Regions from separate parts of the Homo sapiens genome. Here region 2 is reported to be linked to region 1. Evidence: microRNA targets listed by miRTarBase, many of them from high-throughput screens and not tested one by one. Region 1 holds a microRNA gene; the other region holds the end of a gene's coding sequence.
The links. Region 1 holds the annotated microRNA hsa-miR-4787-5p (GCGGGGGUGGCGGCGGCAUCCC, at 3,757-3,778, opposite strand). A microRNA usually pairs through its seed, bases 2 to 8, with sites in the 3' UTR of a target mRNA and lowers its output. Matches are read on the target gene's strand: a 7mer-m8 pairs with bases 2 to 8, a 7mer-A1 pairs with bases 2 to 7 and ends in A, and an 8mer does both.

Region 2: miRTarBase lists GATAD2A as a target of hsa-miR-4787-5p. Seed matches in the 3' UTR shown: 7mer-m8 at 1,144-1,150.

What each region holds. Positions count from the first base shown.
Region 1 is chr3:50,673,501-50,678,870 of GRCh38, reverse strand. It overlaps MIR4787 (microRNA 4787), which reads right to left and starts at 3,791; the gene lies at 3,708-3,791. DOCK3 (dedicator of cytokinesis 3) reads right to left here and starts at 3,944. Exons shown (of 53, transcript NM_004947.5): 1 at 3,571-3,944. The coding sequence starts at 3,607. RefSeq lists a silencer at 3,691-3,980.
Region 2 is chr19:19,505,071-19,510,373 of GRCh38, forward strand. GATAD2A (GATA zinc finger domain containing 2A) reads left to right here. Exons shown (of 12, transcript NM_001384528.1): 12 at 274-3,862. The coding sequence ends at 404. Among named protein-coding and RNA genes, the nearest start is that of TSSK6, 7.8 kb to the right of the region's middle. RefSeq lists an enhancer at 1-423.

The sequences.
Region 1 (5,370 bases):
GCCACTGCACTCCAGCCTGGACGACAGAGCAAGACTCCGTCTCAAAAAAAGAAAAAAAAAAATTAGGCAGGCAAGGTAGTAAACACCTGTAGTCCCAGCTACTTGGGAGACTGCTGCAGGGGGATCGCTTGAGCCCAGGAGTTCAAGGCTGCAGTAAGCTATGATCATGCCGCTGCACTCCAGCCTGGATGACAAGAGCAGGACCCCACCTCTCAAAAAAAAAAAATTGCCTAATGACAGCAGCAGAATAAACAAGATGACCTTCTGAAGCAGCTTCCACTTCTAAGACGTCAAACTAATACCTATGTACTCAAACCTTTACCACTTTTCTATTCAAGGAGTGTAATTACAAACATTTTTGTTTTAAAAACTGTTGGTGCTTGCTGCTCCTGCTGTTGCTCCTGTTAGAGGGTGAGAAAAGCATTTTCTTGGTTTTTGTATTCTATATTTGGTACTCTGGGTACAGTCAGTATAGGGAAAGACAGGTGTTTCACAAAAATAGCTGGATTTTTCTCACCTAATACACTTTAGAGCAGGAAGCTTCTTGGAAAGGTAGAATAAAGAATGGAAGGATGCAGGACTTTCCAAGCATTCATGGCAACAGAAAGGAAAGCAGAGATTCTCTAAGAGGGAAAGGGACATAAGAAGTCAAAACACGGGCGAACGGGTACAGTAAAGAACAGTACCTTACAGTACCACAAAAAGAAAGCAAGACAGTCAAGTATTTCACAAAATACTGCCCACTGCCAAGAAGAAAATTAAGAAAAATATACAATCGTTGAAGGACAAAAAAAAAAAAATTAACAACCTTTGGGATCCAGTTTCTTTATCTGTGTAATAATGATAACATTAAGACTACTCTGGGAATCGACATGGGGTTACCTAAGTGAGAGTCCCAGGCACACTGACAGGCCTATCACTGACCCTCAGAAAGGATAATGTCCTCCCCACTGCCTAAAATCACTCACAGAATATTACAATGGAAAGGGGGGCTCAGTCATCACCTCATCCTAAATGAATAAACCAAACAATTCAGTCATGTTATAACCTGTACAGAATTCCTATATTATAAAAAATTTAATAAGTATTACTACAGGATCTCAAAGCCTTATCAATGTCAAATACAAATGAACAGCTGCAGTGGAAAAAACCCTTTGTACTGCTGCAACAGGGGACTCCTTCCCTCACTAACATCAGGGCAAAAGGAGGCCCTCGAGGCCCTCCTCCACAAATTTCTCCAAATTGGTAGGAAGTAAGTGTAAGGGGTTTCCCTCCTTGCTATGTGATTATAGGTTGACAAACAAAGACACAAATCTGTGCTCCAAGTTAGTCATAAAAATCAAAGCTGAAACTCAAACATTTTCTCACAGGAAAATGATAATGGTTATATTTTCAAGCTAGCCCTCATAGCAATCAAATGATGCAGCAAAAATGCCGTTTTAATTGACTATTTTTCTCATAAGTATAATGTATAAGCTACTTTATAAAGTGGATTTTATGAAAAGTTCTAGAAGTGTAGCCCTAACATCCTTATGAAAAAAAATGTGTCCTGAGTTTTAAACAATTTACACAAAAACTTTTAGATCATAACTAAGGAAGGGACAGTGGAAGACTGTGAGATAAATAGAGAGTTGCTTGGTTTGGTAGAAAAGGCATCTAAGTTATGCTAAACCACAGCTGCTATGAAAATGTCTTCAGTGTAACTGTCTCTCTCATTTAGCAAGCATTAAGCTCTGCCCTGAGCCCAATGCTGTGGCCCTCCAAAGGGAATAACAATTTTTCTAAAGCTAAAAACACAATCCTAGGAATGCAAGAATTTCGTTGCATCTTGCTGGGAAAATCACACACCAAATCCTAGTGCTTTGAGATTCACATGTACCTATCTTGATTACCTTGCACTGGCTCTGTCTCAGAACACACTTAGTGTTATTAGTCTAAATACTAAGGGAAAAGAAGAAACTATTAAGCATTCAGCACGTTCTCATTTCACTTTCACAATCCTGTAAGATAGGTAAACATTATCCCCAATTTATACATTAATAAAATGACGTTAAATGATGTTAAATTACTTGCCCACACCACCAGTAAAGAGAAGCTAGGACTCTGAATTCCACTTTGTCCACTATTCAAGGGCTCCTCCCCCCACGCCCCCACCCCCGCCAAAATAGGGCTCCTCCCCCCTCCAAAAAAATCAATCATGGGGTGCCACTGGAGAGTTGACCACTCACATCAATTATTTGTTATTCTAGTTCAGCAGTTCTGGGAGCGAGTTATGGAGAAGATAAACCACCAACTCCTCACTTCACAGAATCAACTCAGTATTCAGGGAATACTCTAAGAGAAGGGGTAAAATGTCCCTAGAGGTGAATCCCAGCTCTTCGCATCATTTCTCAATTCCTTCTCAATAGAGACTCTAGGACCAGAGCTCCCTTTATCACCTCCATCCTAACATACCTAATTGTTTCAGAAAGTTACCTTTTAAAACAAGATCTTCTACCAGAATAGAAGACCTCTCTGCTGGTCCTCGAATTTAAATAAATTCAATTTTCACACGATAACCTGCCTGATAGCATTCCAAAACATTCGTTACCACTGCAGTTTCAAGTTATTTTGTAGTGAATTGTGAACTAAATCTTGATTAAATTGCGGTAAAGATGGGAAACAAAAATCTATGTTTAGACAGGTTTCCTATCTAAAATTTTCCATTACGAGCTTAGGAAAAACAAAACCTGTACACTCAACATTTTAAATCTGTTTCTAACTGAACAAGATGATAGGTGATGCAATGAGGCTTAACTCTATCATGTAATTGCCACAAAACACTAACATTGTAAAACATTCAATACTTTAAATTACTGAATATTCTTTTTAAAGAAGTTGAATATTGTAAGAATTATTTAGCTTCTGGAGTTTAACACTTACAACATTAAAAAAAGGTTTCTAAGAGGAATAAGGTCTCATCTGAAAACAGGGTTTAAAAAAAAAACCGTATAAACATTGATACATGTCCAAAAACATTTCCCATCGTAAGGTATTATTTCTAATACTAAAGGCAAAACAAATTAAAACAGATCAAACATTTGCAGTCAAATGTCCAAATTTTTGAACTGGGAAAATGATGTCAACGTTTTTCATCCGTTTTCTTGTAAGGTTCCAGATCAAAAATAAACAGCCATCGGGCTCATCAATTCAGGTGCGGAAACTCATTAAAATCGAGCTTTTGGAGGGGAGAAAACATATTCCCAGAATTTGGTTTATCGGGTAAAATTGCCCCGTGGCCCACACCAGAAACCTCGGGCAACTGCCCGGGCCTTGCCCACCCCTCCCGCGGGCCGCACCTGCCAAGGCCGCACCGCCAGCGCCCCCTGCCGCCCTCTCTGCACAGAGACCCGCGCCCACCCCCGCACCCGCACCCGCACCCGCACCTGCCCCCACCCCGCGCTCGCCCCGCGCCGAGGCCGCGCAGCCTGCGGGCAGTGGCGGGGGCACGAGGATGCGAATCCAGGCGGGGCCGGGAGCTGGGCGCGTCCCCCAGAACCCCCGCCACGGCCAGGCCTGAGCCTCACCTACCTACGCCGTATTTCTCCTCCTCCGTGGGGGTCCACATGGCCGTGCCGGGCGCGGCCCCGCGGGCGCGGCGACCGGGCGACAACGCGGCGGGGACGGCCGCGGGCCCGGCTGTGGCGCACCGCGAGTCGAGGCGGGGACGGTCAGGCGGCGCGGGGCAGTGGGCGGCGCATCCCTCACAGGCCGTCCGGGATGCCGCCGCCACCCCCGCCACGTCTGGACCGCGAGGCTCCGCGGGTGGCCCAGCAGCCCCTGGCGGCGCGGGCGAAGGCTCGCCACCTGTCCGTCGCCGCTGCTCCCGTGCCGCCGCTTGCTTCTTCACAGCTCCGCCGCCCGGCTCCCGGCGCCGCCGCGGCTCGGCTCGCCCCAGCGGGCTCGCAGGACGCCCGCGCATGCGCCACTCCCTGCCGCGCAGGGGCTCGCGCTGCCCGGGCTCGCGCCGTCCCGAGCCCGCGCGCGAATCCACGCGCCGCTGCTGCGCGCCAGCGGAGGGAAATCCGCGAGAAGCTATTGGACTGCCCGGCCCCGGACCGGCTTCTAGAATCGCTGGTCCGGGGCCCTCAGCTGCAGCAAACCCCGGAGGGGGCGAAGCCGGTCAGGTGGGCGACTCCCTCTACCCGGACTCCCCACTCGCTTCCGCTTCCAGTGCCTCCTGCCTGCGCCCCGAGATGGCCACAGGCCTCCTGGTCGGAGAGGGGAGATCCAGAAAAGGAGGACACGACACCATTTTCAGACCCATCCCAGTGTCACCCACAGTGCTGTCGGAAAGGTCCCCGGAGCCACCCTGTGCATTCCCAGGGCCCGCAGGATGGAGTCGCCACGAGGGAACCAGGTGGGGTGCACTCGTGCCCCTCTCTCCTGGATCCCCTGTGGGCTGAGGCCGCTGACACCTCCTGGGTTCTTGCTTCTCTGAGATGGCCTGAGTGGTGAATGTTTGGGGCCAGAACAATCAACAGCCGCCTTGCTAGTAAGGAAGAGCTTCATTGGGCCCTTCGTGTTCCTACCCAGGACACGGCATCTGCTGCTCCTGGGTGTCTGCCTCCCTTGGAGCCCTAAGAACTGGCTCCTACCGGAAACTTTCCTCCTCTCTCTCCTCCCTAAGAATCCATTCATTCTGATGCCTGTAAATGTCACCTTGTGACCCCCAAGTCAACCACTTACCAAAGAACAGGAACTGCAGGACTTCTCCTTTCCACCTACATTTGGACCACATGCTCTAATCCCAGCAGATTTGCCCATCTCTGTCACTAGCACTACTAAGTCAAAACCCTGGTGTCATCCTTCACTAGCACTCTCAGACACCACCACTCTTCAAAGCCCAGCTCAGCCCCTCACCTCCAGGAAGCCTGCCCTGACCCATAGTCTCCTTTCCTTCTTTGTCTGGAATTGGAGCTATGTTCGGTTTGTCTTATTTCCCTTATAAGACTGTCAGCTCCCAGAAGGCAAGCTCCAGGCTAAAATCAACTTTCTAAACCCTCACCACCAACCCAGCACCTGTTGTATAGTTGTTGCATGGGAAGCCAGACTAATAGAAGAATATCTTGCAATCAACAGATCTTGTTGATTCTTCGTTCAAAGTGTCATGATTGGTAACTCCTCCCAGGCCTGACTGTGCTCCCCTGGGTTATGGCCACCCCTTCCCACCTTCGGACCTTTAGGCTCCTCCTCTCACTAATCATAGCTGCCCACTCCCGCCCAGAAAAATGTCTGTTCTGTGAATGATAGAATTTCTCAATAGCCAGGTACACTTCTTTTTAGGGGTAGCAGGGGTGTCCAAGAACATAACGAAAGAGCTAACTGTTC
Region 2 (5,303 bases), not on the chromosome of region 1:
TAGCTGCTCACCCTCTGATGATTGCCCCACACTTGGGATTACCTTGGCAGAGCCTGGCAATGTCAAGGCCATTGAGTTGCTGCCTAAATACTCTTCAGCTCTGGGGGGGCCTGGGATTTGAAACGTTGATTGAGGAGTAGTGTGGGTGGGTTTGCAAGGGCTCCTGGGTCCTTAGTCTGTATTGGGGCTGGGGTCTAGGCAGCTATGGCTGGGCTCCTCCCAGGAGCCCTCCTGACGAGGGCCTTCTCAGCTGGTCGCTCTGTTCTGTTGCAGGCGGGACCCTTGCGTTTGTCAGCCCAAGCCTGGCGGTGCACAAGAGCTCCTCGGCCGTGGACCGCCAGCGAGAGTACCTCCTGGACATGATCCCACCCCGCTCCATCCCCCAGTCAGCCACGTGGAAATAGTGCGAGCCAGGCCCCGTGGAAGACGGGCTCCCTCCTCCCCCACCTGGCCCCTGGTCTAGAAGGACCCACTGCACCACCCTCCGCTGGCTCGGGAAGACACCGTGCCCGCCCCAAGAGCAAGCACCGGCCATGCTGCAGAGGCAAGACCTCAATTCTTGGCTGCAAAGTTTCATCAGGGCTAGGGGGCTGGTGCCGCCTCATAGGCAGACGAGGATCATCGCTGGGGGACCTTTCCCGTGGGCTTTCTTCCTTTCTCTCTTTGCCTTTAGTTTGCCCGACACCAGCAGAAAAGTGGACCTTGGGGGCTGGTTCTGCTCCTGGCCCCCTTGTTCAGCCCCTGCCGGCACACGGGCGGCTCACCCTGGACACTGTGATGCGCATGGGCAAGGCCAGCGCCCGGGGCTTCTGAACCGAGCGGGGTGTTTCATTTTTTTGCTTTTCCCTGTCTTAGGCTCCCAGTCTTTGACTGCCTTCCCATGGCGATCTATAAGTTGAAAGATTTTTTTTTTTTTTAATCACCTCATGATGATGGAGTTAAAAGTAAACCGTGCAGACCCTGGGGTCCCTGTTGTACGCTGCATCATCCCGCTGGCCCTGTGCCCTGGAGGGTGGGCGGCTCATGGTGCCACAGCCCCTGGCAGGGACGGCCGGCCCGCCCCCGTGACTGACTGACAGATGCAGGGATGGCCGAGGCAGCCCTCGCTCCAGCTGAACGCCTCCATTGCTGCTTGTTCTGGAGACCCCCGCCCCCGCACCTTCCAGACTTAGCAGAAGAACAAACTGAAGAACAGACCCAGCCAGAGAAGCAGGGATTCCAGAAGCTGCCCATTAAGGGAGAAGGAGAGGATCCGGTCGGCAGCAGCCCTGAGCAGAAAGCTGGAGGGGGGACTGTCGCGGGGTTTTTCTGTTGTGGTTTATTTTATTAAATTTTTTCCTTTTTTCTATTCATTTCGATGGACGCAATCTTAAGCCACCCTGGCCTTGCTCCTGGGAGGTGAGCGTGCACAGGTGTGTGCAGGTCAGGAGGTGCCGTCCAGGTGTGCGGCGAGCCGCTGCGCACAGATGTCAGGATTTCCGTTTGGGTCTAGTTTAGAACCTGTCCTTAAACCTAGGGGTTGCTGTCAGGATTTGCTTTCAGACTTTTTTTTTTTTTGTAATTCCCTTTAGAGTCTACAAAAATGTTTTTAAAAGGATCAGGTCTGCTTTTAGTTTCATTTTTGTTTCTTTCCCGTCCCACTCTTTAAAAACTGGTTCCGTGAGGAAAGGCAGAAGCCGTTCCGTGTCTCTTGCAGGCTGGGCCGGCTTCATGCCAGTGCGAGGGCGTCCCGTGCCCACGTACATACGTATGTCTCCATGAGTTCTGGGCTCCACTGGTTCCAATTGAGCTCCAGCCCTGGTTTTCCTACCCATGCAGTTAGGGACTTTAATTTAATTTTTTTTTTGTAGGGCCACCGCCTTCAAACACAACTGCTACAACATTCTAATAAAGGCTCATTTAACCCCCAGGCTCCTGTCGTGTGAATATCCTCAGTCTGTAGGAAACTTTTTTTGACACAGCATAGAAGACCTAGTTTTGGAAAACATTATCTAATTTTTTGTTGTGCAAATCCCCAAATTTCTCACTAATTTTTGTTTTTTTGTGCATAACTTGGATGGGCTGAAGGAGGTGAGGACAGATTGGGGAAGGGTGGCTTTCATTCCAAGATCCAGGGATTTGGGGAAAAGGAAGGAATTTGATGTTTTTTGGGGTGGGAGGGGAGGGTGTGTTTTTTACACCAAAAAAAAAAAAAAAAATCAAGAGTATGCAAGCATTTCTATTCCTCGCATTTTTCTGTGTGCCTGGCAAATAAATACCTGTCTCCTACGACCCTGAGCTGTTAGCCCTCTCTGTTCCATGACAGGGGCCAGATCTTCCAGCTCCTCCCAGAAGGAGCACCCAGGCTGGCTTCTTCCCACTGAAAGCCCTCCCCAGCGAACCAACCTCAGTTCTATGCAGTGGCTGGGGATCAGGCATCCAGACCGAAGTCACCTCTGCCTGCTCCAGCTTGGGTCAGCTGGGTCTGACCAGGGGGCCAGATCCGAGCCGCACCTGCCGGCCCCCAGCCCCAGCTCCAGCTCCTGACCTCTCCCAGCCTGGCCTGGCTGTTCCTCCAGGGCTGATGGCTGTCAACCCATCCTTGTGAGTTCATATGGACTGCTGCCCCTCGAAAGGGAGAGGGTCGGCCCCATGTCCCCAGGGAGCATTCCATCAGGGACAACGTACATACTGTGATGTAAACTTTTTTTTTTTCCCCCCAGGGGGCAAAAGTGTGAGATGCCTTAATCTTTCCTTCATTTCTGCTGTCTCGAACACTCTAGCCCATTATTTCCTTTCAGTTCCTTGCAGCATAACCTCTACGATAAGCCCCAAGCGGGTTGTTGTATTATGACGTTTATGATGTTCCAGGTGAAGGCATTATTAAGTACCTCTCTGGGTGTGGGGTTTGGACGCACCAGGATAGCTATTGATTAATGTTAAGGGTGTTCTACCCACAGCAAAGCACACCCTCTTAAACCAGGCACTGCCTGGGTCCTGGTCCCGAGAGCCCTACCAGGATCAGGTTCCTGCAAGCCGTCAGAATGTGGGAGCCCCCAGCCCAACTGATTGTAACTGTCCCCTGTTACCTGTGACATGAACCTCCAACAGCACCTGGAAACGGTTCCCTCTGTCAGCTGCTCTGTAGACAGGGCTGGGGAGATCTCAGAGTTCACACCTCGCCTGTTGTAGGGGAGGTTGGGGGTAGGGTTTGGAATGGCCAAGTGCCCTTGGAACCTCCCACAGCTATGGCCGTCCTGACCTCATCCCAGGAACTCTACGGTGACCAGGAACCACCCCTCTGACGAGGTCTGTAGCGGCCCTTCTCAGAGTGGAACAGCCCACAGTGCTAGTTGTGCCTGGTCTTACCTGTACTCCACGGACCTCGGTGAAGCAAAAGCTTCAGGGCAGAGGGAATGAGGCAACCCAGTGGCAGCCCCGCTGGGCCCCGTGGCTCCTGCTCTCCTATTGGACGTAGAGGCAGGGGAGAGACTTCTCTATACAAATATTCTCATCACAGAAGGGATGATCCTTGCTGCTCTGCCGTAGGGTTTTTGATGCTGAGCTATGCTGCACATGACGTTAACCTAAAGAACTTGGACTGAGCTTTTAAAAAAGGACAGCAAACAATTTTATAATCCTTAAAGTGTAATAGACGGTTACACTAGTGCAGGGTATTGGGGAGGCTCTTTGGGTGTGGAGGCTGTCACTTGTATTTATTGTGACTCTAAATCTTTGATAGTAAAACAAATGTAAAAAGAAATGTTTGCCACCAGATGGGAATAGAAGTTCCAATAAGCAGGCTGGAATGGGTGGCTATACGTTGTATCACGAGGAAGTTTTAGACTCTGAAGGATAATAAATGGATGATGTGTCAACTGGACTTTTCTTTTGTCCCTTCTGCCCTGGCTTCTCTGTATTGTTTCGTCCTAGCTTCCCAGGCAGGTTGGAGGGAGATGGAGGATGACCCTTAGTTAATGAGAGAAGCAAAGGGCGGGGTGCATCTGCTGCTGGGGCCTCACTTACTGTGGGGATGGAGTCCCCACGGCCCCTCTCCTCTGGAGCTTTGTGGCAAACTTACCCCATGGGCTGGGAGAGAGGAATGAGAATCTCAGTGGGGGCTGGGTTTGGTGGCTCACATTTGTAATCCCAGCACTTTGAGAGGCTGAGGTGGGTGGATCACCTGAGGTCAGGAGTTCGATACCAGCCTGGCCAACATGGTGAAACCCCATCTCTACTAAAAATACAAAAATTGGCCGGATGTGGTGGTGGGTGCCTGTACCCCAGCTACTTGGGAGGCTGAGGCAGGAGAATCGCATGAACCCGGGAGGCAGAGGTTGCAGTGAGCCAAGATTGCGCCACTGCACTATAGCCTGGGTAAGAGACCGTGACTTTCTCAAAAAAAAAAAAAAATTCTCAGTGGAATTTGCTTGTGTTTGCTGCATCAGCCTTCACGCTAGAGTGGTGGGTTTTCCTGGAGCAATTTTCAGGCTGGGGGCCTCGATGGTGTCTTTGCTGCAGGATGTGATATTACAGATGTGCAATCTAAGCACAGAGTCACCAACCTGGATCCAAAATGAACGACGTCCTGGCAAAAATGTTTTCAAGTGTTGATAGTTTCAAGTTTTATTCTTAAGGTGAGACCTGGGATCATTTTGCTGAATTTTAATGTGCATAAAACATGACCCTGTTTTCCTAGGTGCTATTTATTTGAGGCAGGGTCTCACTCTGTTGCCCAGGCTGGAATGCAGTGGCTTGATCTCAGCTCACTGCAGCCTCAACCTCCCTAGGCTCAGGTGATCCTCACATCTCAGACTCCTCAGTAGCTGGGACTATGGGCATGCACCACCATGCCCAGCTAATTTTCGTATTTTTTGCAAAGACACATTTTTGCCATGTTGCCCATGGCTGGTCTTGAACTCCTGGACTCAAGCAGTCCTCTCACCTTGGCCTCCCAAAGTGCTGGGATTACAGGTGTGAGTCACCACGCTTGGCCGTTTCTTGTCTTTGAAGCATCCTTGCCTCCGGCCTGGGAGCTCATACCTTCCCCACAACTCCCAAGTGCCTGGTCTTATGGGCACAGAGCTGGTAGAGAACATGGTAGAAACTGAACCTCAGCCTGTCCAGTAGCGCGATCTTGGCTCATTGCAACCTCCGCCTCCCAGGTTCTAGCGATTCTTCTGCCTCAGCCTCCCGAGTAGCTGGGATTACAGGTGCCGCCACCAGCACGCCCAGTTAATTTTCAGTAGAGATGGGGTTTCACGTGTTGGCCAGGCTGGTCTCAAACTCCTGATGTGATCCACCGGTCTCAGCCTCCCAAAGTA